Linked DNA regions of Homo sapiens: all the other regions are linked to region 2. Evidence: fine-mapped expression QTL. A gene starts in region 2. Each other region holds a variant in brackets. All regions are shown on one strand. Distances are from middle to middle. Region 1 overlaps WNK1 (WNK lysine deficient protein kinase 1). Region 2 holds the start of RAD52 (RAD52 DNA repair protein). Region 3 overlaps WNK1 (WNK lysine deficient protein kinase 1).

What was found.
Region 1: its variant is fine-mapped to the expression of RAD52 in whole blood (TOPMed, PIP above 0.99). The same link has a PIP of 0.9 or more in lymphoblastoid cells, testis and tibial nerve.
Region 3: its variant is fine-mapped to the expression of RAD52 in whole blood (INTERVAL, PIP above 0.99).

Annotation. Positions count from the first base shown.
Region 1 is chr12:869,740-880,157 of GRCh38, reverse strand. It overlaps WNK1 (WNK lysine deficient protein kinase 1), which reads right to left. Exons shown (of 28, transcript NM_018979.4): 9 at 8,810-8,893; 10 at 1,797-1,946; 11 at 127-585. Among named protein-coding and RNA genes, the nearest start is that of RAD52, 75 kb to the left of the region's middle. The variant C/T (reference allele first, on the strand shown) is at 5,774.
Region 2 is chr12:943,978-954,395 of GRCh38, reverse strand. It overlaps RAD52 (RAD52 DNA repair protein), which reads left to right and starts at 4,702. Exons shown (of 12, transcript NM_134424.4): 1 at 4,702-4,794. RefSeq lists enhancers at 4,480-4,749, 4,213-4,871, 5,300-5,379, 4,872-5,530.
Region 3 is chr12:887,931-898,348 of GRCh38, reverse strand. It overlaps WNK1 (WNK lysine deficient protein kinase 1), which reads right to left. Exons shown (of 28, transcript NM_018979.4): 21 at 9,126-9,209; 22 at 7,836-7,896; 23 at 3,714-3,787; 24 at 1,617-2,278; 25 at 668-870. Among named protein-coding and RNA genes, the nearest start is that of RAD52, 57 kb to the left of the region's middle. The variant C/T (reference allele first, on the strand shown) is at 5,496.

The DNA.
Region 1 (10,418 bases), 74 kb after region 2:
ATTTTGCTTCTCTAGTTGACATGTTATTGCTAGTTATTCTGACACTCAACTATTAGATTTCCATGTTCCTGATGATCTACTAGGATCAAACTCTGTGGTGCCCTCTTTTGCTAACTAACACAATACCTGGTACAGAACATCTCCAGAGGAAAGTGGAACCTCAGCAGCTTGTCCAAGGTTAGCTGGTATTCCCATGGACTGAACTGCTGGTTGTAGGAGCTGTGGGTGAACCTGACTTGGCAGCTGAGTCACAGGCTGCAGAAGGGTTGGAAGCTGACTAGGAACCACAGTTGATACCCCCGGGATCGCAGCTGTTGTAGCAGATGAAGCCAACGTGAGCAGAGGCTGAGTAATGCCAGCTGCCATTGTGATGGGAAGGGATGAGAAACCTGTCTGAGCCGTAGACACATGAGGAGTTGATATGGGAATCTGAGAGACAGGGTACTGAGGGAGCAAGGGAGTAGGGAGCGGCTGTCCCACTGGAAGGAAATGAGCACCAGAGTGGACTGGAACAACCGAGGGTTGTGTCGCAACTGGGATCTGAGGTTCGCCTTGGATAGTTGGTACTGGCTGGGAAACTGGAAGCTGGGAAGGTAAAGAAAAACAAAACAGACAGGCTTAAAAAAAAAAAAAAAAAAAAAAAAGCAAGGCTGCCAAAAGCAAGATTTATGTATTAGCCAAAAAGAAGGAAAAAACAAACAAAAAAAAAAACACCAAACCAACAAAACCCTGCATACATTAGTGTTAAGTTAATATGCCACATAAGAATATGGAAAGGAGAGCAGGAGAGAAAGAGGCTAAATAGACTATTACTGTTCTACACCTTTTGTCATAGAAATATTTGCTAATGCTTCAGCATTTGGCAATAGAAGAGGACCCTTCCATAGACAAGGGGTTGGCTTTTTTTTTTAACAGCTTTATTGGAATATATTTTATATACCATAATGCTATCACTAAAGTTACGACTGCTGTTACAGTAGTTACTGAAATTCAAATGAATTCCTTCCCAGTGGAATTAAGATTTCATTCGTATTATTTCTAAAATTCTTAAGTCCAACATGGCTCAATAAAAATTGGTATAATTCACATATTTCACTCATTCTAGGATGCAATCATCCCTCTCCACTACCTGATCATTTTAACATGTGAGAAATTGGGATCTACTTTATAACTGATAATGTGGTACATAAAATATGGTACATTTTAAAGTTGATAGCATCTCAGATGTGATGAAATATTAGGGTAACAATACACTGTGCACATACATGCACAACAGTACTCAAAAATAAAGTTGAAAAAAGGTCATTCAGAAAAGCATACCTTCTACAGGGTACTTCTCAAGTGATTAGGAGGACTACTTAAGAAAAAAAAACATTCCACACAGTAAACAGTGCAGAAATCTACATGAAAATAAAGCATAGTTTCAAACCTAGAATATCAGACATAGCTGACACAATTCTAGGGAATGTCATAGGTTCAGTTACCAGAGCACCTTTATTTAACCTGTTATTTCTAATACCTGTTACATCAATTTTGGACTGGTAAGACTAGAAGTGAAACTTTGGATTGTCACTGCTGTCAGTAACGTACCCATTTACATTAAATAATGCATATGCACCAATGAGGTGATCTTCACTTCATTTCTGCAATGAGATTAACCTACTTCAAGGGTTGGTTACCCTTAGAAGAAAAGGTAGAAGTCTATCCACATGAAAGGACAAGTTACATGGAAATCCCTTTTAGCACCCTTTCAGAAATTAAGAGTTTACCTGTTTAAAAAAAAAAAAAAAGTTTACCTGTTTTCCAGCTGATACTTGAGGCAAGACTTGTGGAGCTTGAGGCTGACTCACTGGCTGTGCAGTAGTGGCCTCACTGGAGGTTGATGTCTGTGAAAGTGAATACTGCACTGTCTGTTGAGGAGGGGCTGTCTGCTGTATTCCCTGCTGCTAAGAATAAAATACAATGATTCAGTTTTATTTCAAATCAATAACAGCATGTTTCTAAGGAAGCATGTTTACCTAAAGCCTTCAGTGTCTGTAAATAATGATGATTTTAGTAATCAAGACATGCACAAACCCAAATTCATCAATTTCCATTATATATTTGTTTTCCCTCTGATGTTCTTTGTGATGGTGCCACCAGGAAAAATTAACCAATCTTTTAATACTCAAGTTACCATTGGCTCTTCACCCAATTATCTCCCTCACCCCAACAATAGGTCTTTACAAAGACATTTACATAACATATCCAGACAGTTCCTTTCCCCATCCCATCCCTGCCATTCCCTTTTCCCTATCTCTTGGCATCAGCTCTCTCTTTGGCACCTATATCAGATAGATCCAATAGCTTCCTTTAATCTTTTTTCCTTACCCTATTTTATCAACTGTATAATTAATATGCTTGAAGAATAGCTTTGATTATAGCTACAAAATAGGGAGGAAAGCACTGGATTTGGAATAACAGACATTTTCAAATTTTAGCTTTAATATTTACTAGCTGTTAATGCCTTAGATTGCTTATTTTATTAAAAAAATGAAGTTTCTCTTTTTGAAACAAGGACATTATTTTTTAACTCAAAGTGGGGCAAAGGGAATGACACCTGGGAATCTACTATGTACTAGGGACTCAAGTATAATTTAATGCATGGTGCGTAATTATACACCTAATTTAATGCATGGAACATAACTGTACTCGAATACTAAATTCTGTAATAAATCAAGCAAACAAAACCAAACAAAACAGGACTATGACCCCTAGAGTACTGCCCCTTCTGTCTAACAAATAAAAACTTGAGGCTGGGCGCGGTGGCTCACGCCTGTAATCCCAGCACTTTGGGAGGCTGAGGTGGGCAGATCACCTGCGGTCCAGAGTTCAAGACCAGCCTGACCAACATGGAGAAACCCCATCGCTACTAAAATTGCAAAAAATTAGCCGGGCGTGGTGGCACATATCTATAATCCCAGCTACTCAGGAGGCTGAGGCAGGAAAATTGCTTGAACCTGGGAGGCGGAGGTTGCAGTGAGCCGAGATTGCACCATTGCACTCCAGCATGGGCAACAAGATCGAAACTCTGTCTCCAAAAAAAAAAAAAAAAAAAAAAAAAAATGAAGTTTAGGGCTGACTTTCAAGATCTTCTAATACCTAATTTATATTTTTTCTTTAATACAACATCTGCTTGTAATAAAAATTTTAACTAGTACATCATATTATAAAGTTAATGAAAATACCCCTAATCCTATTCTCCAGAGGTAACCACTATTAGTCGTTTGGTGCATAACCTTCATGGATTTTTTTCTATGCGTAAGTGGCCATTTTCACATAGTTTTCTTTTTTTGTTAAAATAAACAAAACAAAAACATGCCTTTCCTATACATAGTGTTCTATAGCATACTACTTTAATTTCTAAATGGCATCAGTCTCCTAATGATAAACACTTTGGTTGTTTCATTTTTGCTACTTAAAATAATGCTGCAACCAACAGCCTTTTACGTATGTGCTGGTATACCCATACGACTAATTGGTTACTGCTGGTATAAAGATAAGCTATTTATTTGTACATTTATTATGTATCTTGCCACCTTGATAAGTGTCTTAGATTTTGTTAGGTGATAATCTACAAATAATATTTTTGCTCTTCTTATATTTATGTCAATTAAAATCACCAAAAGAATGCTAAAATATAATGGCAACAGCAGTCATGTTTGGTTTATTCCTATTTAATTATTTCTGATAATGTATTCTTTTTTTTTGACACGGAGTCTCGCTCCGTTGCCCAGGCTGGAGTGCAGTGGCGCGATCTTGGCTCACTGCAAGTTCCGCCTCCCAGGTTCATGCCATTCTCCTGCCTCAGCCTCCTGAGCAGCTGGGACTACAGGCGCCTGCCACCACGCCCGGCTAATTTTTTGTGTTTTTAGTAGAGACGGGTTTTCACCATGTTAGCCAGGATGGTCTTGATCTCCTGACCTTGTGATCCGTGCACCTCGGCCTCCCAAAGTGCTAGGATTACAGGCGTGAGCCACCGCGCCCCGGCCTCTGATAATGTATTCTTATTTTAACTTTTAAAGAAGCAGAAATGGCTGCTGAATTACATGAAATTTATTTTCTGCAAACTAAGATAAACCACATGTAGCCAATTCTAAAGGTGCTCTGAATATAAGACAAATTTGTTAATTTCCCACCTGAGAAAAAGGAACTAAAAAACCAGAAAACCTTTTTTATTTGCCAACTTGAACAAATTTAAACTTTAAGGAATGTGAATGAGATATCTATAATTATCTAACTCATTAATTTACACACGTAAATAAGATTGCATATTAAATATATTAATTCAGAAATACTGCTCCCTCTCCCCCAAACTCTACATAGGTAAAGACACCAGCATCTTTACCTTCACTGAAGCTAAATTATGAACGCTCCTGCAGTTTTCTGGCATAACATAACACATTCCATCTAAGTTGTATCTTCAGGTAAAATGTGCAGTGAAAAGCACCTATTTACATAACATTAAAATAAAACTAGATTTTTTTTTCCTTTCTCTTATAGGTTTTTATTCATGTAACCCTTATATTGACATCTTAAAGAGATCTTTAAGCCAGTTGTTTAAAATCACATACAGTCCTCAGAATAGTGAAGTCATATTGCTGAGAATAAGGACTAAATTTATGTTTATTCCTTAAAAATATTCTGTCTGATGTTCTCAATGAACATTTCTAACTACATGAGCTGAAGTCTTTGCAGGCACATTTGTTCTCACCTGTTTCATTTTATTTCATTAACCTTTTTTGGTTTGTTGTTGTTCAAAGTAAAGGACAGTGAAAACCCTGTAATATGAGAGTACGATAAAGGTCTGAATACATGGTTATTCCCCTCTTTTCTAACGGATAAATTTGAGGAAGAATTCCCATGTTATCTTTGGGCATATGGTAATCATATGCTCCCAGCCCCCAATACATCCTCCTTAATTCAAAATTATGCTCATATCAAAATTTAGACTCTATCAACTCTTTCCTGAACTTATACCTTCACATATCTATGCTCTAGTTAAACCAAACTAAAGGCACATTTGTTTTTGTACCCTATTTTTCTATCTTAGGGCCTTTCACATTGCTCACAGTATAATTTTTTTATCTTCTGGCCTGGAATATTCTTTATTTCTACATCTGAGTCTAACTTATAATCAAAGTCCATTTCAAATGCCTCCTTTTTCCTAAAGTCTTCCTGATATTCCCTTTCCTGCTTGGGAGAGATGTTAATTTCTTCCCTTTTTTTGGACATAATTGGGTAGTAGTCAAATGGTGAGCTGTGGAATTAGATTATTTGGATTTAAATTCTGTTTTTACCTCTTATAAGCTGTAAGTTTGGGTAAACTACTCACCTTCTCCAGATCTCAGCTTTCCCATCAGTAAAATGGAAATAATTATAGCATCTATACTTATAGGGTTCTTAAAACGATTAAATGAGAATGTAGGTACAATGTACAAAGCACTTTAATATTAGCTATTATCCTTATTTGTTTTTTAGAAATTTACATATATATTTACTATATTATTTAGACTCTTTCAAAGTAGTCATACCTGGTCCAGCTCGGTAGACCTTCAGTATCTGAACTCAATTAGGAAAAAAAGCTGAAAGGACTGTCAAAAATGAGCAGTTTTATGGACAAATTATTTCTTTGCTTAAGACAACTGAGAGGCATCTATGACAGTGACCCTTGTATTAACATCTTAAAGAGATCTCTAAACCAGTTGTTTACAATGGCTAACGGTTAATGTTA[C/T]ATCTTAGAGCATCTGGGGAGAAGTGTCACCTCTGGATATGCCAGAAGTACATGATGATCTGCTGTGCGCAGTCCCACTGACTAATAATCAGCACTTCAGCCAGGCAGGGGTGGTCTAGCTTAACAGTTTAGCATCATGCTCTGCCCAAGCTTGCCTCATGAAACCAGTTCAAACAGACTTTATGGATAGTAGGGTAGGTAGTTCACAACTTCGGTGCTTTTTTTTTTTTGAGATGAGTCATGCTCTGTTGCCCAGGCTGGAGTATGGTGGCAATATCATAGTTCACTGTAGCCTTGAACTCCTGGGCTCAAGTGATCTTCCTGCCTCAGCCTTCCAAGTAGCTGGCACTGTGTCTGACAAAGTTCACAACTTTGTTTGTGGTCACAAAGCTTTTCAGCAGGAGGCAGCTATTTTTGGTACCTTGCTAAGATCTAGTATATCACTATACGAGACCCTACAAAAACACACAAAAAAGCAATTCCTCATTTACTATGTTCAAGAAACGCATGAAATAAAGTAAATTTTAGCAAAAGTATATTTCTTTCCTCACTAAAATAAAACAAGAGATATGGTTCTCTAAGGTGGGATTGGGACCTGAAAGTACGTAAAACAAAAATCATGTCTAAAAATAGACTATCCATATAGTACAAAAAGTTTTCAACCTTTCTTTTTTCAAACGTGGAACTCCAATAATTAAAACAAATAAAGACAGCTTCTGAGGTACATTTGCAGAATCATTAAGTCCCTGCAGAACTTTATTTAAAATGGAAGAAACAATACTATTCTAGGAATCTTGAATTCTGGGTTATAATTTGTAGCTCCCTTATTATCTAAGTGACTTTGGAGAAGTTAATTATTCTAGACCGAATACACTTCCTATATATATCGAGGGCTCAATTTTGTGATTCTACAACACATGCTATAAAAGTATCTAAAACAAAAACATCACTGAAACAAAAATTAATTTTTGTTTCTGCTGTAGAGATAGCATTTAGCCATATTTTTTTCTCCTGGAGAGGTAGCTACCTAATTCTTTTAATCTGACATTTATGGTACTGCTCTCTTCTTTTCTCACACTCTTTCTTAACATGAAACTCAATGAATTATTTTATTATCTTCTTCATTTGATAGTAAGTATACATACATATCCCCAAATACAAGACAGATAACCAATTCCTTTGGAAAAGAAAAAACAGAGCACATACAATTTGCTCAGTTCATTGGTGTTCGTCTACATCCAAAGATAAGCAAGTTAGGAGATTAGTACTCAGTACTTCCATTCTCAACCAGCTTTATGTGACTTGTAATTTGCATTCTAATTAGGAACTGTTAATAGAATAAAACAGATTTTGTTAAGGTTGGCAAAAATATGTTTACTTGAATTTAACCAGTCTTGTTTGGAAGAAAGGACAGGTGCAAAACAAAGCATATAAGTCCCAGTCCTTCAGTTCACGGAGTGAATGCATGTATAAACAAACTAATCAACTGTTTCTGTAGAAAGTGCCTTTAAGTGATTTTCATCTTGTACAAGCAACTCCTGATCTTAAACCAGTATCGAATGACTACATGACCATATGTTGGACTGAAAAAGGGCCATTTGTAATTAAGAACCGAAAACTTTGTTTCAAAACCAAAAACTAATAGAAACAGAAGCCAGTTTAGAGTTTGCTGATTAAAAAACCCACATGGGGAACTAACATTAGGAAGTTTGCATTACATACATAGTGGCTACAAATTTTATGTAGAATAGCTAATAAGTATTCAATTATGCCAAAAATGCATTATTCCCTTGCAAATAATTACTATTAACTAATATCAGTGATGCACTATAAATATTTAATTTTAGAATTACCAGTTTTACTGTTGGATGTATCAGGATGACACTAATCTCTTGAATTCCTTGAACTTTCTGGAACAAGCCCCCCAAAACAAAAGTTAAAATATTTTGGCTGGGCACAGTGGCTCCCAGCACTTTGGGAGGCCAAAGCGGGTGGATCACTTGAGGTCAGGAGTTCAAGACCAGCCTGGCCAACATGGTGAAACGCCATCTCTACTAAATTAGCCAGGCATAAGTAGAACGTAATACAAAAATTAGCTGGGCATAGTGGCACGCGCCTGTAGTCCCAGCTACTCGGGCGGCTGAGGCGTGAGAATAGCTTGAACCTGGGAGATGGAAGTTGCAGTGAGCCAAGATTGCACCACTGCACTCCAGCCTGGGCAACAGAGCAAGGCTGTCTCAAAATAAATAAAAATAAATAAATAAATAAATGTTCTTGAAGTAATTGTTCTTAGGTTTTCATTAGATGCTTCTTAGCGTAAAATCTGACACATCATTCTACAGATTAGAAATAATTAAAAAGAAGTGCAGGATTAGTAGAGGCAAGCACAATGAAGGTAATGACAAATCACTGCTGCAAGCAGTGGAAAAAAAGAGAAAAGGAATGACATACTCTTTGTACCGTAAATTATGTGTAGAATCCAGGCTGGGTGAGGTGGCGCATGCCTGTAATCCCAGCACTTTGGGAAGCCGAGGAGGGTGGATTACCTGAGGTCAGGAGTTTGAGACCAGCCTGGCCAGCATGGTGAAACCCCGTCTCTACTAAAAATACAAAAATTAGCTGAGTGTGGTGGCAGGCACCTGTAGTCCCAGCTACGTGGAAAGCTGAGGCAGGAGGACTGCTTGAACCTGGGAGGCGGTGGTTGCAGTGAGCTAAGATTGCACCACTGCACTCCAGCCTGGGTGACAGAGTGAGACTTTGTCTCAAAAAAAAGGTGTAGAATCCTCTTTTAAAAAGATAATTATATCAGTAATAATGTATGTCTACTAAATTGTTCAAAAGTATATTAAACAAAAGAGATTTTTCTGAAACACAGAAAAGTCTCTTTTTTTTCTTTGTTACTGAACACAAGACATGGTATGCCTCTTAATTTTCCTTTCAAAAACTTAGCAGGCCATTTATATAACAAATCACAAAAGTTAAAATAGTGTTCTGGCCACTGCTAATTCATAAAATGTTGCAATGCATTGTTCTCACCTGCTGAGGATGTTGTATGGGTTGGGAAGATGAAACCCCTGTTAAGCTACTTGAGGATGGCTGACCCTGGCTCTGCCCCTGTGCCTGAAGGAAAGAAGTGAACACAACAAATTAGAGAAGGCCTAAAGTAAGTGTATAGAGGTCAGGCTTTTGCAATGAATATTTAATCTCCTCAGAGTTTGCTTGATCAAAATGAAACATTAACCTGATTATGTATGGGAGAGGCCTCTGGGTCAACTTTTGTAAGAAAAATTTAGAAAAGGATCATACCACACAACATGTTCTGATCCCAACCCATGCAAAACCCACTGACAGTGAAAACCTAAGCTGTCAATGCTGCTCAGGCTGTAATTTTAGCTGGCTAGAATCGTCAGATTCATAATAAAATTTGTTATTAGAAATACAATAATCAGGAACAAAGTATTAATACTATCAATCTGAAATTTATCTGAAGAATTAAAGAAAGGTATTTGGTAATGCTAATTTGGTAATACTTCTTGTAGTGCCACAATGACTTTTATCAAAAGTATCAAAAAATCTGTTATCATCAACTGCCAAGTACCTAGGGCGATCATTGCTATCCAGGAGCAATCCTGCCACCCCCAGGGGGGCACTTGGCAATATGTGGAGACATTTCTGGTTGTCACAACTGAGGGAGATTGCTGCTACTAGTATTTAGGAGGTATAAACCAAGGATGTTCTAAATAGCCTACAATACATAGAACAGCCCACCACAACAAAGAATTATCCAACCTCAGATGTCAACAGTGTTGAGTCTGAGAAACCCCAACTACAGTGTTTCTCACTAGAAAGTGAGAAATGATGCAGGACTATATATAGGTATGTTAACGAAATGAAAAGGCTACCACTTTTGTCATTCCATTTCAGTTTACAAGGGGTTCCTTAAAGCTTACATGGATATAATATCACATTCCACTGCAGCTTAACTATTATAAATATTGATTCCTTCTGTAGTATGTCTATAAATTAACTACCTGGTATTTTTTACTTTGGAAAGTCTAAAGGATAATTACTGGCAATACATTAATATTTATAATAGGGGCTGCAACTTGAATACTGATGTGAATATACTGCATGCCCATGTATAGCTGTCAAGCTTCTGGATCTTTTTGTGTCTTAGTACAGCACTAAATAATTGATAATTTGTGCACATTTTGGGAGTTGTTTATGCTCCTGATGAGGGAAGAACATAGGAAGAAAGTAGGAAGAACAACACATAGTACTTTATGTAGGATATCCAAATGTCTTCAATATATAACTGCATAGTCTTCTATGTAGATTTTATAAGATGTACACATTTGATAAAATATACCAAATGAATATATGAAACAGTAAACACTGACTGTACTTTTGAATTCTATTACATTCATTACATTGTCTTTATTTGCTAAGTGTGTATATGCTCATACACATAAATAACTAAAATTAAATTTGTTGAGGAAAATACAAGGCCTAAGATGTCTACTGTTCCTTAGCTTGCAACATATCACAAATTCTTATAACAAAAAAAAAAAGCCCACCACTCACTAGATTGTTAGTTGCTAAAAATTAGAATCAGTCCTTAATTTTATGAATTAGCATTTTATTT
Region 2 (10,418 bases):
CCTCCCAAAGTGCTGGGATTACAGGCGTGAGCCACCGCGCCCAGCCTGTTATTGTAAAAAATTTAAGGATTTCTGTTTAGGAAATGACACTATGGACAAAGTTAATAAGCAGCTAACAGAGTAAGAGAAGATATTTACAAAGTCAAAATCTGACAAGAGATTAATATCTAGAATTTCAAAGAATACCTTCACATCAACAAGAAAAAGGTAATGACTACATACAGAAATGGGTGAATGATATGAACAGCCAATTAAAAAACCAGAAAACCAAAAACTGAGCATGCACAGGAAGTGCTTAAAATCATTAGTAATCAGAAATATAATTTTTTTAAAAAAGATAACATTTCACACTCATTACACTGCCGAAAGTTGTGAATCAGCATGATGTCAAGAATTGGCAGGGGTGTGGACATACAGGAACCCTCATGCAAGGGCGGTGGAGAGCAAGCTGTCATTACTCAGGCAAATAAAATAGACGTCTGTCACCCAACGGTTCCACTGCTGTGTGTACGGAACGCTCTCACACAGTTTATAAAGGAACATGTAGGAATATGTTCACTGTAGTATTATTTATGATGTTCACAGTGGGGAAGGTAGATGGGCGAAATATGGTGGATGTACACCATGGGAAATGCTGTGGCAGGCAGGCACGATGGATTAGAAATCACATTGTGTTAGTTTCCTAAAGCCATTGTAACAAATTACCACAACTGGGTGGCTTAAAACATCAGAAATTTAGCTTCTCTCAGTTCTTGAGGCTCTAAGTCCCAGATTAAAGAACTTGGCACGGCCATGTTATGAAGTAAATAATACTACAGTGGATATGTTCATGTATGTCCCTTCGTAAATTGTATGAGGACTTTTTGTACACAGGAGTGGAATCACTGGGTCGTAGACATACACTTTATTTGACTAAGTAATGACAGCTTGCTCTCACAGCAGGGGAGGATACTTCCTTGCCTCTTCCAGTTTCCGGTGGCCTCATGTTCTTTGGCTTCTGGCATAATGACTGCAATCTCTGCCTCCATCTTCAGAGGGCTGCCTTCCTTCTGTCTTTGTCTCTGTTTTCTTATTTTTATTTTTATTTTTTTTGAGACTGAGTCTCACTCTGTCGCTCAGGCTGGAGTGCAATGGCACAATCTTGGCTCACTGCAACCTCCACTTCCGGGTTCAAACAATTCTCTTGCCTCAGCCTCCCGAGTAGCTGAGATTAAAGGTATGTGCCACCATCCCCAGCTAATGTTTGTATTTTTAGTAAAGACGGGGTTTCAACATGCTGGCCAGGGTGGTCTCAAACTCCTGACCTCAAGTGATCCGCCCCCCTCCCAAAGTGCTGGGATTACAGGTGTGAGCCACCTGGCCCGGGCGTCTCCCTTCCCTCCCTCCCCCTCCCCTCCCCCTCTCCCCCCTCCCCTCCCTTCCCCTTCCCCTTTTCCCTTCCCCCTTCCCCTCCCCTCCCCTCCCCTTCCCCTCCCTTCCCTTCTCTTCCGTTCCCTTTCTTTTGAGACAGAGTTTTGTTCTTGTCGCCCAGGCTCAAGTGCAATGACTATATCTCGGCTCACTGCAAACTCCACCTTCCAGGTTCAAGCAATTCTCCTGCCTCAGCCTCCCAAGTAGCTGGGATTACAGGCACCCACCACCATGCCCAGCTAATTTTTGTATTTTTAGTAGAGACGGGGTTTTACCGTGTTGGCCAGGCTGATCTCGAACTGGCCAGGCTGGTCAAGGCGATCCTCTCGTCTTGACCTCCCAAAGTGTTGGGAGGTGTGAGGCACCGAACCCAGCCTGTTTTCTTATAACAGCAATTATATTGAAGAGGGTCTATCCTGAATTGAGTATGACCTCATCCTACTTGATTACATCTACAAAGACCCCTCTCTAATTAAGGTCACATTCACAAGTACTGGAGGTTATAATTTCTACCTGTCTTTTTGAGGAACACAATTCAACCCACAACAAAGAATAGCAGGAACTATTTTTAAAATGTAGTTTTTAGAGCTGAGCATGGTGGTGAGCACCTGTAGTCCCAGCTACTCAGGAGGCTGAGGCAGGAGGATTGCTTGAGCCCTGGAGTTTAAGACAAGCCTGAGAAACATAGTAAGAACCCCTCTCTAAAAAAAATTTTTTTAATTAGCCAGGCATAGTGTCATGCACCTGCAGTTCCAGCACTTTGGGAGGCCAAGGTGGGAGAATTGCTTGAGGCTAGGAGTTCAAGACCAGCCTGAGCAACATAGCAAGACCCTGCCTCCACCAAAAAAATGTTTTTTTACTTAGCTGGGCATGTAGCCTCTGTAATCCTAGCTACTTAGGAGACTGAAGCAGGAGGATCACTTGAGCCCAGGCATTTGAGGTTATAGCGAGCTATGACCGTGCCACTGCACCATAGCCTGGGCAGCAGAGTGAGGTGCTGTCTCTTAGAAAAAAAAGTTTTTCATAAAAAAAAAGAAAACAATATAATATATACAATAACATGCAGGTAGGTAACTTTAAAATACATTTACCCCAAAAATTATGTTTCAGAATTTATAAAATTCAGCTAAAGGAGTTCTTAGAGGAAAATTTATAGTTTAATAGTTTAAATGCCTTTACTTAAAACAAAAAAAGGTTAAAATCATAAGAAACAAAAAGAAAGAAAAGTAAAGTAAACCTAAAGTGAGCAGAAGAAAGGAAGTGATGAAGATAACAATGAAAATCAGTGAAACAAACAAATGGAAAAACAATTGTAGTAATTAATAAAACCATGAGCTGGTTCTTTGAAAAGACAGGTAAAATTAATAAACATCTAGCTGGACTAGTGAAAAAAGGAGAGGACACAAATTACCAAAATCAGAAATGAAAGGACACAACAAAGAAAACAACAGAGTGAGAGAAAATATTTGCAAACCATATATCCAATAAGGGGTTACTATCCTATTCTAAATATGTGAAGAAAGCAAACAACTCATAGCAAAATCAGATCACACGACTAAAAAGGGGGCAAAGGGCACCAGGTGCACTGGTTTACACCTGTAATCCCAGTGCTTTGGAAGGCTGAGACAGGAGAATTGCTTGAGGCCAGGAGTTGTGAAAAGCCTGGACAACATAGAAAGACCTTGTCTCTACAAAAAAATTTTAGATTAGCCAGGTGTGGTGACATATGCTTGTAGTCCCAGCTACCTGGGAAGCTGAGGTGGGAGGATCACTTGAGCCCAGGAGTTAGAGGTTGCAGTGAGCCATGATTGCAGCACTGCAGTACAGTCTGGGCAACAGCTTGATAGCTTGAGACCCTGACTCTTTAAAAAAAAAATCATTTATCAAAAGATGACATACAAATGATCAACAGGTTCATAAAAATGCTCAATATTGGCTGGGCACAGTGGCTCACACCTGTAATCCCAGCACTTTGGGAGGCTGAGGTGAGCAGATCACCTGAGGTTGGGAGTTCGAGACCAGCCTGACCAACATGGAGAAACCCTGTCTCTACTAAAAATTCCCCAGAGGCTGGGGAATAAGGGGCTGGGGGAGATAATGGGGAGATGAAGATGTTGGTCTCAGGGTACAAAGTTAACAGTTAAACAGGAGGAATACAATTTTGAGATTTATTGCACAGCATAGTGACTATAGTTAATAATAATTTATTGTATATTTCAAAATTTCTAAGAGAGTAAGTTGAAAATATCTCGCCACAAAAAGAATGATAAGTGGGCTAGGTGCAGTGGCTCATACCTGTAATCCTAGCACTTTGGGAGGCTGAGGCAAGAGGATCACTTGAGGCGAGGAGTTCAAGACCAGCCTGGGCAACATAGCAAGACCCTGTCGCTACAAAAACTTTTTTTTTTTTTTTTGAGACGGAGCCTCGCTCTGTCGCCCAGGCTGGAGTGCAGTGGGGCGATCTCGGCTCACTGCAGGCTCCGTCCCCCGGGGTTCACGCCATTCTCCTACCTCAGCCTCCCGAGTAGCTGGGACTACAGGCGCCCGCCACCACGCCCGGCTAATTTTTTGTATTTTTAGTAGAGACAGGGTTTCGCCATGTTGCCCAGGCTGGTCTCGAACTCCTGACCTCGTGATCAGCCCGCCTCGGCGTCCCAAAGTGGTGGGATTACAGGCCTGAGCCACCACGCCCGGCCCCAGGGGACATTCTAGAGGGGACTTCGCCCCCCAAGCCGCACTTCTCCATTTCCCTGCGGTCGTCGCTAACCGAAGGCGCCATCCGGTGACGACTGGATGTGCGCGGCGGTGGTGAGAGGCCGCGAGAACCACCAGGTCCACCGCTGCCTCGGCCCGGGCGGAATCTGGGAAGGTCTCTGACAACCATTCATCCTCAGATTTTCCCAATTGTGCATGGGTGGGCGGGCCCCGCATCCTAATGGGCACTGGGCATGTGAAGTGTGAACCACCCGGGCCTAACTAGCCGCTGAAGGCCTGACGAAACCGCCAGGCCCACCAGGGGGCAGCAGAGATCCGACGGCCGCGGACCGAGGGAAGCTGGCGGGAAGTAGGAGGCAGAGGGCGCGCAGGGAAGCGGCAGGGCGAGCGGCTCAGAACGTAAAAGCCAGCACCGCGCCTCCAGGTTGCTTTACGGCTGCCGCAGAAGGCTTTGCGGCTCTTTTCCCCTCCGACTTGATTTACGGTTCCTTCTCTGGTCTGTGTTTTTTTTTTTCCCCCTCCGGCGCTGGGCGTGGGTTCGGACCTTCTTCCCAGAGACGCTCGCGCACCCTTCCCATTCTCCTCTGCGCGGCCTCCATCTAAGATCTCTTCCCCTTGTCCATAGCCTAGATCGAGCTCCCTGTGTGCACCGCGCGCTGCCCGAGGCGCGTAAGTGGGGGAGGAGAGCGGCTTCCCCCGGGGTGGTTCTAGCCGTGGGTGTGGAGCGTGGGAAGGCTCAGCTTCCGGGTCGAGAACCTGGGGCTGCGGTGGACCTGATCCTGAGGTCTCAGCGTAGAGATGCTGAGTCCAGAGGCCTGTTCTAGTTCACCAGTGCAGTGAGGGGCTCAGTATCCGGGCCTCCCGAGAGGTGGGTAGGAAGGCGGGGTACAGGAAACTTGGCACCAACGCGCCGGGACCCCACCGCGGTGCGGACAGCCAGGTGTCCGTGGTGGCGCTTCCTTGGAGATGCTGCCTGCAGACAGGCGTGGGGAATCTGAAGTTTGTGTTAATAGCTAAACGAAGTTGAGTTGCAGGGAGCGGGGGACGCTGGGAAGAAATGATTGATTTAAAAGGAATTTGACGCCGGGCATGGTGGCGGCATGCCCCCATGTTCCCTGGAGGTCAAGCCTGCAGTGAGCCGAGATCGCACCCGTACCACGACACTCCGTCCCGGGCGACAGAGCGAGACCCTGTCACGGGGGAAAAAATAAAAATAAAAATTTGACGCTCACTTTAGCTGAGTATTGAGCCTTGTTATAACATTGAGATAGAGGTCTGGCGCGGCGTCTCACACCTGTAATCCCAGAACTTTGGAAGGCCGATGCGGGAGGATCGCTTGAGGCCAGGAGTTCTACGCCAGCCTGGCTAACATAGCGAAACCCCGTCTCTACTAAAAATACAAAACTAGGCAGGCCTGGTGGCGGGCGCCTGTAATCCCCGCTACTCGGGAGGCGGAGGCATGAGAATCGCTTGAACCCAGTAGGCAGGTGTGCCGGTAAGCCGACATCGCACCACTGCACTCCAGCCTGGGGGACAGAGCGAGAATCCATCCAAAAAAAAAAAAGTTATAATTCACGTACAATTAAATTCACTCCCTTTTTTAAAAAAAAGTGGAGACATAGTCTCGCTCTGTTGCCCAGGCTGGAGTACAGTGGCGCCGTCTCGGCTCACTGCAACGTCCGCCTCCTGGGTTCAAGCGATTCTTTGCTTCAGCCTCTCAAGTAGCTGGAATTACAGGCGCATACCACCACACCCAGCTACTTTGTATTTTTCACCATGTTGGTTAGGCTGGTCTCGAACTCCTCGCCCTTCCAAAGTTCAGGGATTACAGGTGTGAGCCACCACACCCAGTCTAAATTCACCCTTTTAAAGTGTGCAATTCAGTGGTTTTAATATATTCACAAGGTTGTGCAATCACCACTATTATCTAATTCCAGAACATTTTTATCATCCCTAAAAGAAACCTTAAAACCATTAGCAGACACCCATTATTTCCTCCTACTCCCAGCAGCACTAATCTATGAATTTACCCATTCTCAGTACTGTATTATACAATATTTGTTCTTTTGTGTTTGGTTTATTTCACTTCATGATTCAAAGTCCATCTATGTTGTATGTAGCATGTATCAACTTCATTTTTTAAATAACTGAATTATTTATTGTGTGGATATACCACATTTTGTTTCTCCATTTTTGATGGATACTGGTGATTTTCTAGGCTTTCTAGGTCTAGTCCTCCACAGAACTCGCAGTCTGAGGCACAGACATTTAAAACTTAAGTTTTTGGAAACTAGCATTTAACTCTTGGGTTGGGTCAGGTAATTCAGTGGCCTCAGGTCTGGTATCGTTTAGGGCAGTTTTTTTTTTGTTTTTTTTTTTTTTTTGAGATGAAGTTTCACTCTTGTTGCCCAGGGTGGAGTGCAATGGCGTATCTGGGCTCACTGCAACCTCACCTCCTGGGTTCAAGCGCTTCTCCTATCTCAGCCTCCTCGGTAACTGGGCTTACAGGCGCATGCCACTATGCCCGGCTAATTTTTGGTATTTTTAGTAGAGACAGGGTTTCACCATGTTGGCCATGCTGGTCTCGAACTCCTGACCTCAGGTGATCCACCCATCTCGGCCTCCCAAAGTGCTGGGATTACAGGTGTGAGCCACCGCGCCTGGGTGGGAGTTTTGTTTTTTTGTTTGTCTGTTGTTTTTTGGGGGGACAGAGTTTCTCTCAGCCTCCTCGGTAACTGGGCTTACAGGCGCATGCCACTATGCCAGGCTAATTTTTGGTATTTTTAGTAGAGACAGGGTTTCACCGTGTTGGCAATGCTGGTCTCAAACTCCTGACCTCAGGTGATCCACCCGCCTCGGCCTCCCAAAGTGCTGGGATTACAGGTGTGAGCCACCACACCTGGGCGGGAGTTTTGTTTTTTTGTTTGTCTGTTGTTTTTTTGGGGGGACAGAGTTTCGCTCTTGTTGCCCAGGCTGGACTGCAGTGGCGAGATCTTGACTCACTGCCACTTCTGCCTCCTGGATTCAAGCGATTCTCCTGCCTCAGCCTCCCGAGTAGCTGGGATTACAGGTGTGCACCACCACACCCGGCTAATTTTGTATTTTTAGTAGAGAAGGGGTTTCTCCATGTTGGTTACGCTGGTCTCGAACTCCCTACCTCAGGTGATCCTCCCGCCTTGGCCTCCCAAAGTGTTGGGATTACAGGCGTGAGCCACTGCGCCCCTCTGGGAGTGTTTTTTAAAGTGTTCTATTCTCAGTTCACCACTTACCAGGCCGTTAATTATCGTGGTATCAAGCAGAGAAATGTTTGTGTGCTGGTCTTCTCAGGGAGGCAGAAACCGTCAGAGATTGCTGTTGTGTAATGTACACCAAAACGTGTTATCTTGTAGTATAAACGGTGTAGTTGGAGATGAGTGTATGAAAAATGTAACTGAGCTAGCTGTGGGAGAGACTAGTTGTGAAAAATTTTGAGTCACCCACTGTATGCTTTCCCAGCTATGTTCAAATAAGGTGACACTCTGCCTTCCTGTTTCAGCTCTAAAACTGTTCATAAGTGTTATTTTGGCTGTATACGTAGTGCCATGTTTTTTTGTATTTTTGTGCTTTTGGTGATTTTGCTGTTTATAGGGGCCTCCAAGAATAGAAGTGCTGTCTAGCATTTCCAAGTTGAAGGCTGTGATATATCTTATAGAGAAAAGATAAGCTTTTAGATTAGCTTTGTTCAGGCATCACTTTTGTTGTTGGCTGTGAGTTCATGTTACTGCATCAACAATATATATTAAATAAGATATCTTTAAACAGAAGCACACATAAAACAAGGTTATGTATTGGCCTGTTGAGTAACCCTGTATTTCCCCTGGGAGCAGTGGCTCAGTATTTGCTAGTTCAGTGTTCATGATGGCTTTACAGGACATAACTACCCTGAATAATGAGAACTGACTGTCTCAGTAGTGCTTCAAGGGCAGAAAGCCTAGTGGATATTTTTCCATCTCTGCAGCTTTTAGCATTTCTTCACTCAAGGCACTCATTTTTAATATTGAACTGGCAGTTTTGATGTGGAGAGAAGCTAAAATAAGGCTAAAATGCTCTTCATACTATGTGCTGAGTGGGGACTGTGCTGAGTGTTGGGGATTCAGTGATTAGTGTATGGCCCCGCAGTTCTCTAATGGCTGAGTGTGGGAGTGCAGAGAAATGATCAGTGTGAGGGAATTAATCCTATGTTCCCACCGTGTTTTTTTGTTTTTTTTGAGACGGAGTTTCACTCTTGTCGCCCAGGCTGGAGTGCGGTGGCGTGATCTCGGCTCACTGCAACCTCCGTCTCCCAGGTTCAAGCGATTCTCCTGCCTCAACCTCCCGAGTAGCTGGGATTACAGGTACCCGCCACCGTGCCCAGCTAATTTTTGTATTTTTAGTAGAGACGGAGTTTCACCATGTTGGCCGGGCTGGTCTCGAACTCCTGACCTCATGATCTGCCTGCCTCGGCCTCCCAAAGTGCTGGGATTACTGGGTTCCCACAAATTTTAAGACTTACTTCAGGCCAGGTGTGGTGGCTTATGCCTGTAATCCCAGCATTTTGGGAGGCCGAGGTGGGCAGATCACCTGAGGTCAGGAGTTCGAGACCAGCCTGGCCAACATGGTGAAACCCCTGCCTCTACTAAAAGTACAGAAAATTAGCTGGGTGTGGTCGCGCATGCCTGTAGTTCCAGCTACTCAGGAGGCTGAGGCACCAGAATCACTTGAACCTGGGAGGTGGAGGTTGCAGTGAGCTGAGATTGCGCCACTGTACTCCAGCCTGGGCAACAGAGTGTCTCCCCCTCAAAAAAAAAAAGACATACTTCAGAGTGTGGTGAGCTGCATAAGGCTTTAGAGGTAATGACATTTTGAGATTTCAATTAAAAATTTTTTTTCTACTTTTTTTTTTTGAGACAGAGTCTCACTCTTGCTCAGGCTAGAGTGCAGTGGTGCGATCTTGGCTCACTGCAACCTTCGCCTCCTGGATTCAAGCGATTCTTGTGCCTTAGCCTCCTGAGGAGCTGAGATTACAGGCACCTGCCACCATGCCCAGCTAATTTTTGTATCTTTAGTAGAGAAGAGGTTTCATCATGTTAGCCGGGCTGGTCTTGAACTCCTGACCTCAGGTGATCTGTCTGCATTGGCCTTCCAAAGTGCTGAGATTACAGATGTGAGCCACCGTGCCTGGCCACTTTTTTTCTACTTTTGCTAATTTTTTTAAAGTTTCATGAACATTATAGTACTGTGTTCATAAATGAAAATAAAAGAAACTTGCTCCAGTCTTGTTCATCAAGCCGTTCTTGACCTTCACAGTCAGAATCTCACCCATCACCTTGTCACATCTCCCTCTTGATCTGTATATCCAGAGTCCACCTGACATGCTTCTTCAGCCCTCCACATATAATAAGAAATGGTTTTGTGAGCCGAGATTGTGCCATTGCACTGCAGCTTGGGCAACAGTGTGAGACTCCTCAAAAAAAAAAAAAAAGAAAGAAAAATGCTTTTAGGTGATAAGGAAATGGAGAAGAATAAAACATCTTTGCCAGTCTTTACCTTTTTAATATCTTGAATTCATGATTTCTTGCCATAGCCACTATCCTAGTCCAGGCTCTCTCCCTTCTACCCCTGAGTTTTTTTTTTTTTTTTTTTTACCATGTTTTTATTTCCTCTGGGAAAACACCTATCAGAATTTTGGGATCATATGACAGATACATATTTAATTTCTTTCTTTCTTTTTTGAGACAGGGTCTTCCTCTGTTGCCCAGGCTGGAGTGTAGTGGTATGATCATGGCTCACTGCAGCCTTGACCCCTTCCTCGCCCCCGCTCAAGTGATCCTCCCACCACAGCTTCCTGAGTAGCTGGGACTGCCGGCATGCTCCACCATGCCCGACTAACGTTTTGCTGCTTGTAGAGACAGCCATGTTCCCTAGGCTTGTCTTGAACTCCTGAGCCTCAAGCGATCCTTCCACTTCAGCCTCAAGTGCTGGGATTACAGGCGTGAGCCACCACTCCTGGCTACTTAATTTCTTTCTTTCTTTTTTTTTGAGACAGTCTCGTTCTGTCACCCAGGCTGGAGTGCAGTGGGGTGATCTCTTCTCACTGCAGCCTCTACCTTCCAGGCTGAAGCAAGCCTTCCACCTCAGCCCCCTGAGTAGCTAGGACTACGGGAACATTCCACCAGGCCCAGCTAATTTTTGTATTTTTTGTAGAGATGGAGTTTCATGATGTTGGCCAGGCTGGTCTTGAACTCCTCACCTCATGCAATCCGCCTGCCTCAGCC
Region 3 (10,418 bases), 56 kb after region 2:
ACCATGCCCACCTAATTTTTTTATTTTTAGTAGAGACAGGGTTTCACCGTGTTAGTCAGGATGGTCTTGATCTCCTGACCTCGTGATCTGCCTGCCTCAGCCTCCCAAAGTTCTGGGATTACAGGCGTGAGCCACCGTGCCTAACCAATGACTAGCAAGTTCTTTAACCCAATATAAATGAAATAAAAACCTTAATCAAGAAGTTACCACTTAGACATACACACAAATATCTATATGACGATTACATTCATCTAAGTTGCAATTATGACTAAGTCATCCATTAAAACAAAGAATCTACCCAAGTTTTACTAAACAGAGAATAATGTATTTTCTTCCAACTGCCCAAGAGTTTGGTTAAATGTGAGTTATACGAGTTAACAGGCAAAGCTAAATGTCTATCCTTAAGAATAACTATAAATAAAGATTACCAGTAGATAGCAATATGGATTACAATGGAATAAGCCATTGTATTCACTAAGTCTACTTCTATAGACTCAAAAAGAGGTACAATAAATGTAAGTACAGCAGTCAAGGAAGCAAAAATATCAGGAGAGCCAAATTCCTTTGAAATTTAACAAAAACAACAAATGTTCAGCAGGTCACATACAGCTGGAGACAGAAACAAAAGATAGGACAGCTGTGGCTGACCTAGTCCAGGGCTTTTTACCTGAAAGCTGGGGGCTTTTATTCCCCAAGGAACTGCTTCGACTAGATTTGCTGCCTTTGCTTTTAGTGGGTCGTCGTCTTCTCCCTGAAAGGGGAGCAGCTGGGGGAATAATAACAGCAGGGGGCACCTTGCCCAGTTTGGTATACAAAGATTCAATTTCATGCTTCTGGCGACTCTGCAGGTCCTGAATCTCTTTGAGATGTCTGTGAAAGATAACCAAACATAATTCAAAATACCATAATCCTCTTCATTCAGACAAGAATTAACAGCATATTCCTAAACCTGCTTTCAAGTATGTAGTAGTTACTAATGAACCTTTTCCCCAAATGTACTACCACGAGATTCTAGTTTGTCAACTCACCTTGCTGGCCTGCATTACCCAAGCCATGTTCCAACAAGCTCCTAGCCAACAACAAATGGTTGATAATGTTTTAGGAGAAAAACATTTCCTGACTTTTGAGGCCACGCACACAATAGCTGAATTTGCTACTCTGACCCAATCTGCCAAACAAAACGTGCCAAATAATCATACATCCCAGTGCCAGATTCATTTAGTGGACTAATAAATAAAGAGCAGTTAATAGTGATACAATATGCTATTAATAAAAATAATAATACAATACAGTAACAATAATACAGTAATAATATAGTAACAATGAAGAAGTTCTAGAACTAGAAATGCTATGGGTCTGTATGAGTGCAAGAGAAGCTGCCTGTGCCTGTGAGTCAGTGGTTGGGAATCGTGTGTGTGTGTGTGTGTGTGTGTGTGTGTGTGTGTGTGTGTGTGTGTGTGTGGTGGGGAGGTATGGGGTGGGGCTTCTGTGGCACTGTCTCTTTAAAAGAAATGAGACATTAGCATATTGTGGCGAAAAATATTATTAATCTTGGCCCTGGGATCTAGGTCTGAAAACCTTATCTGACATTCTTTCACAAGAGAAAATATACTTACTTATCTCGTAGTCGTCGCAGCTCTAACTTTAAGTCTTCATCTTCGATATCTGACTCATTGTCGCTACTCATGTAAGAGGAGTTAAATGAATTACTAAGGCTTTGACTTAGATTCTGGCTAGGAAGGCTCTTTGAGCTCAGCTGATGGGGCGAGTGTGGACTACCGGAACCATCATCCACATCCCTACTTAAAAAAGCGGCCTCCGGGTCAGAAGACGGCCCATTTAGATGTGAAGGCTCTGACAGTTCAGGCTTCTCTTTCTTTGGTATCACAGCAGGAAGAACAGCTTGTTCCAAATCCATAAAAGGAGGAGATGCCACTGGTCCTTCTTTCTTTGTGTCAGTGATCTTGTCCTCAGTTTTTGATACAGAGAAACGACCCACTTTGTTTGCTGTAGTTGTCACCTGAAAACGTCCAACCTTGGTAGGCTGCCCAGTGTCTGACTTTGCCTCTGAGGCAGTAGTTTTGTGGGCACTCTCTGGCACATCTGAAGAGATACCAGGGATGGTTATGCCATTCGGCTCTGGTTTCACCAAGGTACTCTCTGGACTACTACTTGATAGCACTGAGGACTCTGAGGTGCTGGATTCAAAATGAACAGACTTTGCATCTTCTGACTTATTTTTACCCTCTTTCTGGGCACCGTCTGCTGCAACAGAAACCTGATAAAAAAGGACAAAGATTAAAAACTTAAGTTCTCAATATCCAATTTCTATCACAGACAATTTAAAAAAGGAAAAAAAGAATCACTTTATTTCCCTGTCAAAGAGTAGGCTGATTGTCTCTTTACATAGCGCCTCCACTTTTGACTAGGAAGAAAAATTGAATACCATCATAGAGAACACATGGGTACTGAGATGCAGATTCTGTGTGGCTGGCTACGCTTATAAAGTAAATAATTTACTTTCGTATTTGATGTCATACACAGAATTCAGATTTATGTCTTAGTCAACATATACATAACAAAAGGTCAGGGCCAGGCATAGTGGCTCATGCCTGTAAGCCCACCATTTTGGGAGGCTGAAGCAGGTGGATCACTTGAGGTCAGGAGTTTCAGATCAGCCTGGCCAACGTGGTGAAACCCTGTCTCTACTAAAAATACAAAAATTAGCCAGGCATGGTAGCGTGTGCCTGTAATCCCAGCTACTTGGGAGGCTGAGGCAGGAGAATCACTTAAACCCGGGAGGCAGAGGCTGCAGTGGGCTGAGATCATGCCACTGCATTCCAGCCTGGGTGACAGAGTGAGACTCCGTCTCAAAAATAAATAAATAGATAAAAATAAAAAAATAAAATAAAAGTAAATAAATAAAATAAATTAGCAAGGCATTGTAGAATTTTTAGGGTTGCCTGTGAATAAGAAAAACTACAAGGTAAATGTTAAATGCCTGGTATGCCTCAAGAATCAACACAACTAACTGGTAACTAAAAAAGAGGATCCAGATCCTTGTTCTGGTTTGTCCATGTATTTACAAATACAAACTCAGCCCACCTATAAAGGTTCAGGACCTGTTTACAAATGAGAAAAATATCACCTACTCTCCCCAGCCAGAAAATGCTCACATGTTGGACAACCTGGTAAAATAAAGTGATATGGTATCATGTGTTTTAATTTAAAGAATTAATCTTAGGACAATTATTTTAAACGTGGAAAACATTTTTATACACAAAGATGTTTGCTGTTACTTAACTTATTATGTTGGAAAAATGAGAAATGATGATAGAGACTGGTTAGGTAAACCAATTACTGGATGGGAAAAAAAGCTGTAACATTTGGAACAGGAGAAATGGTAGTTAATTTTAGATAAACACTTGTACAGAAAACAAGGAGTGGAAGGAAATACACCCCAAAAAGTAATCTTGGGAGGTGGGTGGATAGATAGTACGACTATCTACCGTGTCTCTACTGTTCTAAGTATTTCTATATTTTATTTAGTATATATTACTTTTATTAGGAAAATGCTAAAAAGAGCTATAAAGTACTATGTGACAGAAATCACTAGACTGGCAATTGTGTCCCAAATAGGTAGGCAGTAATTTTATTATATAGACAACTCCTCCAAAGGAAGGAATCAAGGCAACACAAAGTGACTGTCTTACCTGAAATCGTCCCATCTTAAAAACACCAGCTCCTGAACTAGTTGCTAGGACAGGGCCTTCTTTGACTTGAGAAACTGAAACAAATACATGGATGAGGAAAACATAAGTGTCTCCTTCCAGTTAACTTCTTTTCCCTTTAGCTAGAAATACAGCAAAATCAAACTACACATGAGGAAAGCTGTTAGAGGCAAAGAGAACTTCCTTATCTCCTCCCTCCATGAGGCTCTGTCCAACAGGGGAAAAGAGTTATTGTTTGCTCTACTACTAGATACCAACTACAACATTAACATATACTATAAAAACAAAGGTTAACAGGCTTTAAAAACTCAATTACTCATTCTTTAATTCAGATATATAAGTAAGTGAAATGAAGGATGAGATTTTACTGAGGACATTAAGGACCCATCTTTATTTTATTGAGATGGAGTTTCGCTCTGTTGGCCAGGCTGGAGTGCAGTGGTGCGATCTCAGCTCATTGCAACCTCCACCTACTGGGTTCAGGTGATCCTCCTGCCTCAGCCTCCTGAGTAGCTGGGATTACAGGCGTGTGCCACCACACCCGGCTAATTTTTATATTTTTAGTAGAGACGGAGTTTCACCACGTTGTCCAGGCTGGTCTTGAACTCCTGACCTCAGGTAATATGCCTGCCTCAGCCTCCCAAAGTGCTGGGATTACAGGTGTGAATCACCATGTCCAGCCAAGATCCATTGTTAAATGAAAACCAGCTAATTTTATTTTCTCAATGTAACACTGGCAAATTCTAGAATAGGATAGTACAGTTCTCAGAATTATTATTATTATTATTATTATTTGAGATGGAGTCTCACTCTGTTGCCCAGGTTGCAGTGCAGTGGTGCGATCTTGGCTCACTGCAAGCTACACCTCCCAGGTTCATGCCATTCTCCTGCCTCAGCCTCTCGAGTAGCTGGGACCACAGGCGCCCACCACCACACCCGACTAATTTTTTGTATTTTTAGTAGAGACGGGGTTTCACCGTCTTAGTCAGGATGGTCTCGATCTCCTGACCTCGTGATCTGCCCGCCTCAGCCTCCCAAAGTGCTGGGATTACAGGCGTGAGCCACTGCACCCAGCCCTCAGAATTATTTAGTTTTGGGCAATTTAAAAACCTTTCCGGGGAACAATGCTTTGAGTTTCTTTCTAGAGATATATTTATTTTATACAGCTAGTAGAACATTGAGCGATTTTTATGTTTTCATGTAATTCTATATCTTTGAGATCATTCCATATCAATGCCTCATTCTTTTTAATGATTGCATAGTGTCATACCCTATGTATATACCATATATATATTTCATATTTAATCAGGCTTCTACTGATGGGCATTTAAATTATTCAGAATTTCTTTTCTTTTTTCCCTGAGACAGGGTCTCACTCTGTCACCCAGGCTGGAGTACAGTGATGCCATCACAGCTCACCACAATCTCAACCTCCCAGGCTCAGGTGATCCTTCCTCCTCAGCCTCCTGAGAAGCTAGAACAACAGGTGCACACCACCACATCCGGCTAATTTTTAAAATTTCTTGCAGAGATGGGGGTCTCACTATATTGCCCAGGCTGGTCTCGAAATCCTGGGCTCAAGCAATCCACCTGCTTTGGCCTCCCAAAGTGCTGGGATTAGAGGTGTGAGCCACCATGCCCGGCCCAGAATTTCTTGCTATTTTAGAAATAAATATTCTCTTATAGATCTGTACAATAAATATACCACAATGAAAGTGCTGAATTATTTCCATTTAAGACTGTAGTAGACATCACTATTATAAA[C/T]TGATCCCCCCAGAGGCTGTACCAAGTCACTGGTGGCTATTAGACCCCTGAATTTACCAATGAGAGGTGGGAATTGCTATCACTTGTAGCCTTACTTTGTGTTTCTATCATTACGGACATTAAATATTTTCATGTCTAAGTTTCCTTTTCTGTTATCTTTTGATTGTTTTTTGGTTCATGTTGAATTTTAGGAACTCTTTGTATTAGCAAAACGAGTTCTTTTTGTGATATGACTACACATACCCCTCCCCCTCCCACAAATATATATATTTCCCCAGTTTTTCATTTATATTTGCAATCGGTGGCACTTTTCTTCCATGAAGAAAATTTTATATCTATTACTACTTGCTTCTGGATTAGACATTGAACTTAACACCTCTATTAAACTTATCTGAGAACTCCAAACTGATCCATGGACCAAATTCAGCCTACTGCCTGTTTTTGTAAATAAATTCTATTGAAACACAAACTCATTTATTTATGTATTGTCCATTGCTACTTGTGAGATCTGAGTAAGTTGCAAGAGACTATATGGTCTAGAAAGCCTAAAATTTGTACCATCTCGCCCTTTACAGAAAAAGAGTTTGTGAACCCTGCTCTAGATAGTTGAAAAAAATCCCCTTGGGACGGGGGAGGGATGGCATTAGGAGATATACCTAATGCTAAATGACGAGTTAATGGGTGCAGCACACCAACATGGCACATGTATACATATGTAACAAACCTGCACGTTGTGCACATGTACCCTAAAACTTAAAAGTATAATAATAATAAAATTAAAAAAAAAAAAGATTTCCAAGCCACAAAAAAAAAAAAAAGTTAGTTATAATGTGGGATCTGAAATAATAGTAATAAGATATTCATAACTGTGGCCATTAAAATCCATTGACCTATACATTTTTTTGTTCATGCATGATTTTTTTTTTGAGACAGGGTCTCACTCTGCCACCTAGGATGGAGTGCAGTGGCAAAACCATAGCTCACTGTAGCCTGGAACTCCTGGGCTCAGGCAATCCTCGTCTCAGCCTCCCGATTAGCTAGGACTACAGGCATACACCACCACAGCTGGCTAAATTTTTGTCTATAGTGAAAAAGGAAAATAATGTCTTAGTTTTACTGTAAAATAGTGTTGCCCTCATAGGCACCCCAAAAGGGTCCTCAGCCCACACTCCAAGAACTGATGCCTTAATACTATGCAATTCTCAAGTTGTTATTACTAATAAATTAAAAAACTAAAAAAAAAAAAAAAAAGAAAAAAAATCCCCTTATGATTTCATATAGTACTATTTTATGATATAATATTTCATCTTTGGTCCACTTGGACTTTACTTATGTCTAGGCTAGTGATCCACCTTTGCTTTTTTCCAGATGGCTTTCAAGTTGTTCTAAACCACTTATAAAAATATTCCATCTTTCAGCCAGGCGCGGTGGCTCACGCCTGTAATCCCAGCACTCTGGGAGGCCGAGGCGGGCAGATCACCTGAGGTCAGGAGTTTGCGACCAGCCTGACCAACAGGGAGAAACCCTGTCTCTACTAAAAATACAAAATTATCCAGGTGTGGTGGTGCATGCCTGTAATCCCAGATACTTGGGAGGCTGAGGCAGGAAAATCGCTTGAACCTGGGAGGTGGAGGTTGCAATGAGTCGAGATGATGCCACTGCACTCCAGCCTGGGCAACAAGAGCAAACTCCACTTCAAAAAAAAAGAAATATTCCATCTTCCAATGATTTGAAAAGCTACCTTTTTCATATTCTACATTCTCTTTTTATTGGTAGTAATCTTTATTATTTTCATTGTACATACTTGATACTCTACATATTTTGATAATCTACATTCCCCTTTCATTTTTCCATTTCTAGACCATTCTAATGATTTGCAAATCACTTTTAAAATGAGAGCCAATTGAGAATATAATTGCCTTGAAAATAAAAATGTTTAAATTGATTAACTGAAATCTTACATTTGTATTTCAATACAAATATATGTCCAGACTATTCAAGCTTCTATCCCTATATATCCAGTGTCACAAAAGCTAAGAGGTTATCAGTAAATTTACTTTTCTAAATACAGTATGCTTTAATTTCCTAATCTCTAATAGCAAGGATCTGGCATAGCTAATAATGAAGGGTCTTATCATTACCTCCTGTATAACCTTTCCTCTGACAAATAATAACGGAACAGATTTATTAATTTGCTAATCTTTCAAGCTTTAGATATTACTACCAATGCTCCTCAGTTATCAAATACGTGGAAATGTGTCTTTGAAACGGTAAACCTCCTGAATCAACTACGGGTAGGGCTGGAATTAGTAATATAAAAGGAGGAAGGATGTTTCTCACCACCCTTCTGAGGCTGTGTTCCTGCTTCTGTGATTGCTGTTGGAGCCGCCATGGACACAGGCTGTAAAACACACACAGACAGACACCACAAATCTTTAGCTTCAGTCACTCAAACTTTTGCCTCGTTGCCTTTCCTATGGTCTTTGTAAAAGGGCAGAAAGACAGTATATGTGATGAAACACTTATGTCTGAGAACATTTTATCTTCTTTCCTTTTTCTTTTAAAGTCTAAAAGTCTGATGTAAAGAAAGGCACCTTTTAGGGCCAGGCATGGTGGCTCACACCTGTAATCCCAGCATTTTGGGAGGTCAAGGTGGGCAGATCATTTGAGGTCAGGAGTTCGAGACCGGCCTGGCCAACATGGCGAAACCCCGCCTCTAATAAAAACACAAAAATTAGCCGGGTGTGGTGGCGGGCACCTGTAATCCCAGCTACTCGGGAGGCTGAGGTAGAAGAATCACTTGAACCTGGGAGGTGATGGTTGCAGTGAGCCAAGATCGTGCCACTGCACTACAGCCTGGGTAACAGCGCAAGACTCCTGTCTCAAAAAAAAAAAAAAAAAAGGTACATTTTAAAAGAATGAATTTCTACTCTTAATTCTTGATTGCTTTCTTAATTTTTCTCATAGGATGCTTAAGGGTATAACTTGGATATTCACAGAAAAACAGTTTCAATCAAAACATTATTATTATTTTTGAGATGGAGTCTCGCTCTGTCACACAGGCTGGACTGCAGTGGTGCAATCTCGGCTCACTGCAAGCTCTGCCTCCTGGGTTTTACGCCATTGTCCTGCCTCAGCCTCCCGAGTAGCTGGGACTACAGGCGTGCACCACCACACCTGGATAATTTTTTGTATTTTTACTAGAGATGGGGTTTCACCGTGTTAGCCAGGACGGTCTCGATCTCCTGACCTTGTGATCCGCCCGCCTCGGCCTCCCAAAGTGCTGGGATTACAGGCGTGAGCCACTGCACCTAGCCCAAAACATTATTTTATCTGACAAAATTTAGCCTCCTCTGAAACAAAAATACGAAATCCATAGAATTGATCTATGGCACAATCTGACCAGACGTACAACTAAAAAAGCACCTTTCAAATAAAATCTTTTCCATAGTGATACTCCTGAGTCAGCATGAATCTTTCATTAATCAGTCTCATTTCTTTTGGCTAGAATAAGCAGGAACTCTGAATACATGTTAAAGGTATTAATAATGGTTTAGGTTACAGTTTGTGTCCCAGGCATATAATATATTAGGGTTATGAGGAGATTTTATCAAGATTTTCAAAACTTACACCAACCGCAGAAGTCACTGTGATCATCTCTGGACTAAGTGTTCTTCTCAATTGAGCATCAAGATCCTCTAGAGGTTGCTGGGACTGAATGAAAACAATCACAGTAAATACAGTTCCGTGGCACCTTCAGAGTCACGATATATAGCCAATTTAGATAGGACACACTGTTTTATGCTTTATATTGGCACAACATAACATTTGTCTTTATGGAACATACAAAACTATACTCAAATTTAGTGTACTGCTTTGATTATTTTGCCAGTTTCTCAAGATTGTATGTCAGACTCTCAAGGCTCAGAGTAGTTCATGTTTTTGCAGTTTAAGAGAAGTCTTATTACATTCTATGTTTGATGTTACTCAAAACGGTAGAAAGAGTTATTTATTTGTGCGACCTTTAAAATATATTGTGAAAAATGTACAAAGATCTACTGGTAGATTCACTGTATCTCATGTTCCCTCTTTTCTTTCTCAGTTTTATACATCTTTCTGGGAAGGTGCCCCTATGAATAAAAGATGGCATTAACATATTCTGTCACTATCACAGGGTATTATTTTCCTCTTTCTTACATGTATACTTCTTCCCTACAGATGGTGGCAAGGAGGTCTGGGTATTCCATCCTGTTAACCATTCCATCCACCGCAAGCACACAGCTTCCTTCTACCCTTCCACAGTCTAATCCTACATCTGTCTTGGCTTCTATCAATCTATTCTTGCACAGTCTTTGCTTAGGCCTTTCCCTCTATCTAGGCACTAGCTATTTACCCTTACCCCTCCACATGTCTCACTTGCTATTTTTTGTCACACTTTATACTCCCTTAGAAATCTGAATCCATGTTTTTAAATGAGAAAATAAGTTTAAAACTAATTTTCTAACTCCTGATTTACGGACTTTCACAATGCACTTTCCCCCAAATGTGGTGGCTGATGGAGTGCTTTCTCTGTTGGGGTTTTTACTTCATTGTGGCAAGTTCCTCAAATAGTGTTCCCCTGTACATTGGGACCAAAGAAATAGGGATAAATTCCAACTCAGCTTCTCAAGTAAGCAATTTACCATGTTTTTCTTATTTCTTATATATGATTCAAAAATAAATTCCTAATTTAGTTTAAAAGTTTACTGGCTTGTCTCATGTCAGAAGATTTTTCCTGGTCACAACAGATTCACAATTAGTACTTTTCTTATGGAAATTCAACAAATGTGTTGGCGGTGGACTGCGGTGGGAAAGAGAAATAATAAATATTACAGGTAATTCTGTCCACCACTGCACTCAAGTGAGCAGAACTGTGTGAGATGG